2 linked regions of the Homo sapiens genome follow. The protein of the gene in region 2 purifies or fractionates together with the protein of the main gene of each other region. This does not show direct contact. Each region holds a gene or a part of one and is shown on either strand. Other genes may lie near its edges.

Region 1 (2,377 bases), on a different chromosome or scaffold from region 2:
TCTGCTACCTTACTTTTTTTTTTTTTTTTTTGAGACAGAGTCTTGCTCTGTTGCCCAGGTTGGAGTGCAGTGGCACAATCTTGGCTCACTGCAACCTCCACTTCCTGGGTTCATGCAATTTTCCTGCCCCAGCCTCCTGAGTAGCTGGGATTACAGGTGCCTGCCACCACGCCTGGCTAATTTTTATATTTTTAGTAGAGACGGGTCTCTACTAAATGTTGGCCAGGCTGGTCTCAAACTCCCAACCTCAAGTGATCCGCCCGCCTCGGCCTCCCAATGTGTTGGGATTACAGGCATGAGCCACCGCTCCTGGCCCCTTACCTTTGTTTTTATTGTTATGGGAGAAACCAAACAGTGAGTAAGAGCACAGACTTTGGAGTCAGACCTGCATTTGAGTCATACTTCTGCTATTAGCATGGCAGAAGTCATTAGCAGTGTCATTATGGCCATTAGCAGTGTCATGCTATTAGCATGACATACATAGCTGTGTGTCCCAGGGAAAGTTCTGTTTAATTTAATTAAACACTCTTTGTGTTTAAATTTCTCATCTGCAAAATGAAAGTAACATTGCCTACCTCACAAGATGGAGGTTAATGAGATAACACATAAAGAGGCAGGTACATAGTAGGGATTCAATAAGTAAATAGAGTAATAAAAACGAGTAATTCCTCTTCCTCCTTTTTTTTTTTTTTTTGGAGGCAAAGTCTTGCCCTGCCCGTGGTGTGATCTCAGCTCGCTGCAACCTCCACCTCCCGGGTTCAAGCAATTTTCCTGCCTCAGCCTCCCAAGTAGCTGGGATTACAGGAATGCACCACCATGCCCAGCTAATTTTTGTATTTTTAGTAGAGACAGGGTTTTGCCATGTTGGCCAGGCTGGTCTCAAACTCCTGGCCTCAAATGATCCACCTGCCTCAGCCTCCCAAAGTGCTGGGATTACCGGTGTGAGCCACTGCACCCAGCCACTCTTCTGCATTCTAAAAGCTGATGACCTCCTTTGACTTTTCTAAACCCATATGAGAGAGAAATCTGGGTGTCTACATCAGTGGTCCTGAACCAAGAGTGATCTTCCTACCCCTTGCTGCCCCAGGGACATTTGATAATTTCTGGAGACACTTTTTGGTTGTTACAACTGGAGGGGTGCTACTTGCATTTAGTGAGCAGAGGCCAGGGATACTGCTAAACGTCCTATAATGCCAGGTCAGCCCCCAACAGCAAAGAATTATCTGGTCCAACATATCAATAGGGCCAAGATTGCAAAATCCTACAGTTAATTATGAGGTAATGAAAGCAGAAAGAGTAGCAGTTTGCATGTAGTAGAGGCTTTAGACACATTTGCCAAATTGAGTTAGCACATCCAGGCTCACACAGCAAGTCTTTGTCAAAGCTTAGGAATGGAAGTAGGTTGTCCCCTCCTAGTCATGGGATCTCTCCAACTCACTAGACAATCTTGCTTTACGTGCTGATGAACATGCTCTGTGAGCAGCCTGGCTTCCCTTTCAGCATCCTCCTGACTGAAGTCGCCCCATCTCTCTTGCTGCAGGTACATTTTTTTGTGTTATTTCTTACAGGGGTTACTGGGGAGGACCAGCGTTTCTGCGCAAGTTGTTTCATCTAGGTATGAGTTAAGGATGGCTCAGCACTTGCTCATCTTGGATGGCTTCTGGGCCAAAACTGCAGTCACTGAATGACCAAGAGCAGCACGAAGGACTTGGAACCTATCCTTGTAAAGAGTTCCTTGATGGGTAATGGTGACCAAATGCCTCCCTTTTCAGTACCTTTGAACAGCAACCATGTGGGCTACTCATGATGGGCTTGATTCTTTGGGAATAATAAAATGAAATAATACTTTTATTTTCTGAATAAAAGTTTGTCACTGATTGTGTTCTATGAGAAAATTTTATCTTGGCTGATAGGGATGAAAAGTTCCAGCACTTGGGAGAAAAATATGGTGGTGGTGGGCTAGCTTATATGTTATCTACTGTGAGTATTCAGCTGACAGCTGGCATAATTTCACAGAGCCTATTTGGATTCACTGAAAAGGGTCATTCCAGGGACAATATTGTTTCAAACATAGTGGGCAGTAGCCCTGAACATGTGCTGCTTAGAACTCCTGCCGCGGGAGCACTGTGGAGTAAGAGCCCAGCTGCCACCCCTCTTGTTCCACCACCCTGTTTATGCTAAGGCCATACTTTCTTCCAGCCAGAGACTGAACATGGTGGGGTGCCAGTGCTGGCCCATTCCTTGGAATGTGGGACTTCTCTACTGGACAACTTTAGCTCCAGGACCCCCCATCAACCTGGCTGAAACTTCCTTAGAACTGTGCTGCGTCTGAGGTTCTATCCAGTCCTCCTTCCTTCCCCCTCTGTTTTCATACGTG
Region 2 (3,500 bases):
GCTGGAATGAGTTAAGACTCTGGGGCACTGTTGGGAAGACATGGTTGTGTTTTGAAATGTTAGAAGTACATGAAATTTGGGAGAGGCCAGGGCAGAATGATGTGGTTTGGCTCTGTGTCTCCAACCAAATCTGATCTTGAATTGTAATAATCCCCAAGTGTCAAGGGAGGGACCTAGTGGGAGGTGATTGGATCATGGGGTAGTTTCCCCCATGCTTTTCTTGTGATAGTGAGTTCTCATGAGATCTGATGGTTTAAAAGTGTTTGGCAGTTCCTACTCCTTGCTTGTTCTCTCTCCTGCTGCTGTGTAAGATGTGCCTTGCTTCCCCTTTGCCTTCCACCATGATTGTAAGTTTCCTAAGGCCTTCCCAGCCATGCGGAACTAAGTCAGTTAAGCTTCTCTTCTTTATAAATTATCCAGTCTCAGGTAGTTCTTTATAGCAGTGTGAAAACAGACTAATACAGTGATCCAGCTAAACTGCTTCCCTGGGTTGCCCCTAATGGTAGTGTAGTTGGGTTAGCTTCCCTAGGGAGGCTTTTCCAGTAAACTGCCAAAAGGTTGCTAGTGTTGTAGAAGGCAGGGTAAGTAAGGGAAGAAGGTTTGAGATCTCAACTGTGATTCAGGTCTCCCAGTTTTATTTTATTTATTTATTTTTTGAGACAGAGTCTCATTTTGTCACCCAGGCTGGAGTGCAGTGGTGCGATCTCAGCTCACTGCAACCTCAGCCTCCTGGGTTCAAGTGATTCTCCTGCCTCAGCCTTCTGAGTAGCTGGGACTACAGGCACGTGCCACGACACCTGGCTAATTTTTTGTATTTTTAGCGGAGACGGTGTTTCACCATGTTAGCCAGGATGGTCTTGATCTCCTGACCTCATGATACACCCACCTCGCCCTCCCAAATTGCTGGGATTACCAGCATAAGCCACTGCACCCAGCCCCCAGTTTTATTATCTCCAGAGAGTAAAACTTAAGTCTTCTACAGGAGTGAGGAGGGAATCTCAGGTTGTGGTAGTGGTGATATAATTGAATAGTCCTTCAACCAGATGTATCTAGGTTGCCAATTACTGAGCCCTCTGGGGGTTCTGCTGTGCAAATCATATGATTTCTTGGCTTTCTCTCCTGCCAATTTAGGATTGGCTTTCTTGAGTCTGCTTTAGTCATTACCAGTTGCATAAGTGCTTTCCAGCTTCCAGTATTTGTTTTCTCGTCTCCCATTCTCTTGGCCTGACTGGTTTATGTCTCTTTGAAATTCTTTTGCTAAAGGGGGGTCAGAGGCATGAATTTATGTCTTCTTTCATCAAATATATCTTATCCACCAGTACTTTTCTCTCACCATTTTAGTGCATTGCGTTATGTTTTAATTATTTGCCTCCTTCACCAGAGTTTTTCAGAATCAAAGACCATGTCCTATTCCTCTCTAAATCCCCTGGACCAAGGCCTGGCACAGCACTGATTCTCAAGGGATGGAATGAGTGGATGGACCAACAAATGAGTAACAGAGAAATCTGCATCTATTAATCCTTTTCCCAGTGCTATACATATGAACATTATTTGCCTGAATGATAGTCCTTATTTATAGAGTTTATTCATGTTTACTAATCCCAGCAGGAACTTTCCCTGACATATTTTCTGATAAAATATTGCTTCTGGAATTTTTACAGGTAAAACATCTATAGGAACTCAGAGGGCTAGTCTGAGTGATCCATGCACTGATATTTATAATAGCTTTTTTAGTACTTTCTAAACAGGGAGTGTACAAATGTACACTGTACATAGAAGGACAATGAAGACGTTCCCCCCTTATCGGGGAGCAATCAAGTATGATTGTTGCCCCTGAAAGGAGATGAAGCAAGAGAAACCTAAAGAGATGGGGTGGGAATTAACTATTCTGTTCCAGCATGAATGCAAGTGGAGTGTTACCATATTTTATTCCTTTAAACCAAGAAAGGAAACAGAAGAGGAAGAAAAAGCAATTAATAAACATTAGGAAAATGCAAACCAAATCTGCAATGCTATACTACTTTACACCTACCAGAATATCTCCACGCCACAAGACATGTAACAAGTGCTGCTGAGGATGTGGAAAAATTGGAACCCTCACAGACAGCTCGTGGGAATGGTGCAGCCACTTTGGAAAACATCCTGGCAGTTCCTCAAAGGTTAAACAGAGACTTACCATGTGATAGTAGTTCCACTCCTAGCTATGTCCATACAAAAACATGTATAAGAATGTTCATAACAACATAATTCTTAATAGCTAGGTGCAGTGGCTCACACCTGTAATCCCAGCACTTTAAGAGGCTGAGGTGAGAGGATTACTTGAGGCCAGGAGCTTGAAACCAGCCTGAGCAACATAATAAGACCCCATCTCTACCAAAAATAAAAAAATTAGCCAGGCTGGTGGTGTGCATCTGTAGTCCTAGCTACTTGGGAGGCTGAGGTGGGAGGATCGCTTGAGCCCAGGGTTCAAGGCTGCAGTGAGCCATGATCATACCACTGCAATCCAGCCTGGATGATAGAAATCCTGTGTCTCTTAAAAAAAAAAAAGGCAATGTAATTCATAATAAAGAGTGGAAACAGTTCAAATGTCCATTACCTGATGAGTGGATAAACAAAATATAGTATATCCATATAATGGAACATTGTTCAGCGCTAAGAAGAAATGAAGAACTTAAATGCTACAACATGGATGAACCTTAAAAACATTATTAGGAGGCCGAGGCGGGTGGATCACCTGAGGTCAGGAGTTTGAGACCAGCCTGCCCAACATGGTGAAACCCTGTCTCTACTAAAAATCCAAAAATTATCTGGGCATGGTGGAGGACGCCTGTAATCCCAGCTACTCAGGAGGCTGAGGCAGGAGAATCGCTTCAATCCGGGAGGCGGAGGTTGCAGTGAGCCGAGATTGCAGCACTGTTCTCCAGCCTGGGCGACAGGAGCGAGCCTCCGTCCCAAAAAAACAAAACAAAAACATTATTGTAAGTGATAGAAGCTAAATGCAAAACACCATATATTGTATGACCCCATTTGTATGTCTTGAATTATTGCAGAGCAAAAACATTCAGGGAATTCTTCTCTCTGGAGGTTGATGCCATTTCCTTTGTCTATGCTTGAATTTTTTTTCTTCTTCAAATTTTATTTTTAGGGACAGCATTAACATTTTATGTTATTTTTTTCTTTTTATTTTTTAGGACCCTGGTTTGATATGTACCTATCTGCTCGAGACTCCGTTGTTCTGAACTTTAATCCATTTATGGCTTTCAATCCTGACCCAAAATCTGAGTATAATGACCAGCTCACCCGGGCAACCAACATGACTGTTTCTGCCATCCGGTTTCTGAAGACACTCCGGGCTGGCCTTCTGGAGCCAGAAGTGTTCCACTTGAACCCTGCAAAAAGTGACACTATCACCTTCAAGAGACTCATACGCTTTGTGCCTTCCTCTCTGTCCTGGTATGGGGCCTACCTGGTCAATGCGTATCCCCTGGATATGTCCCAGT

The links. The genes of interacting proteins can lie anywhere in the genome.
Region 1: the proteins of CPT2 (region 2) and SQOR fractionate together in Homo sapiens (co-fractionation; one large-scale study listed by BioGRID). This does not show direct contact.

The regions. Positions count from the first base shown.
Region 1 is NC_000015.10:45,689,405-45,691,781, forward strand, and holds the end of SQOR (sulfide:quinone oxidoreductase, mitochondrial), read left to right. Parts: intron 1-1,568; coding exon 1,569-1,626; 3' UTR 1,627-1,877; downstream 1,878-2,377. UniProt on the Homo sapiens protein: Catalyzes the oxidation of hydrogen sulfide with the help of a quinone, such as ubiquinone-10, giving rise to thiosulfate and ultimately to sulfane (molecular sulfur) atoms.
Region 2 is NC_000001.11:53,206,824-53,210,323, forward strand, and holds part of CPT2 (carnitine O-palmitoyltransferase 2, mitochondrial isoform 1 precursor), read left to right. Parts: intron 1-3,191; coding exon 3,192-3,500. UniProt on the Homo sapiens protein: Involved in the intramitochondrial synthesis of acylcarnitines from accumulated acyl-CoA metabolites.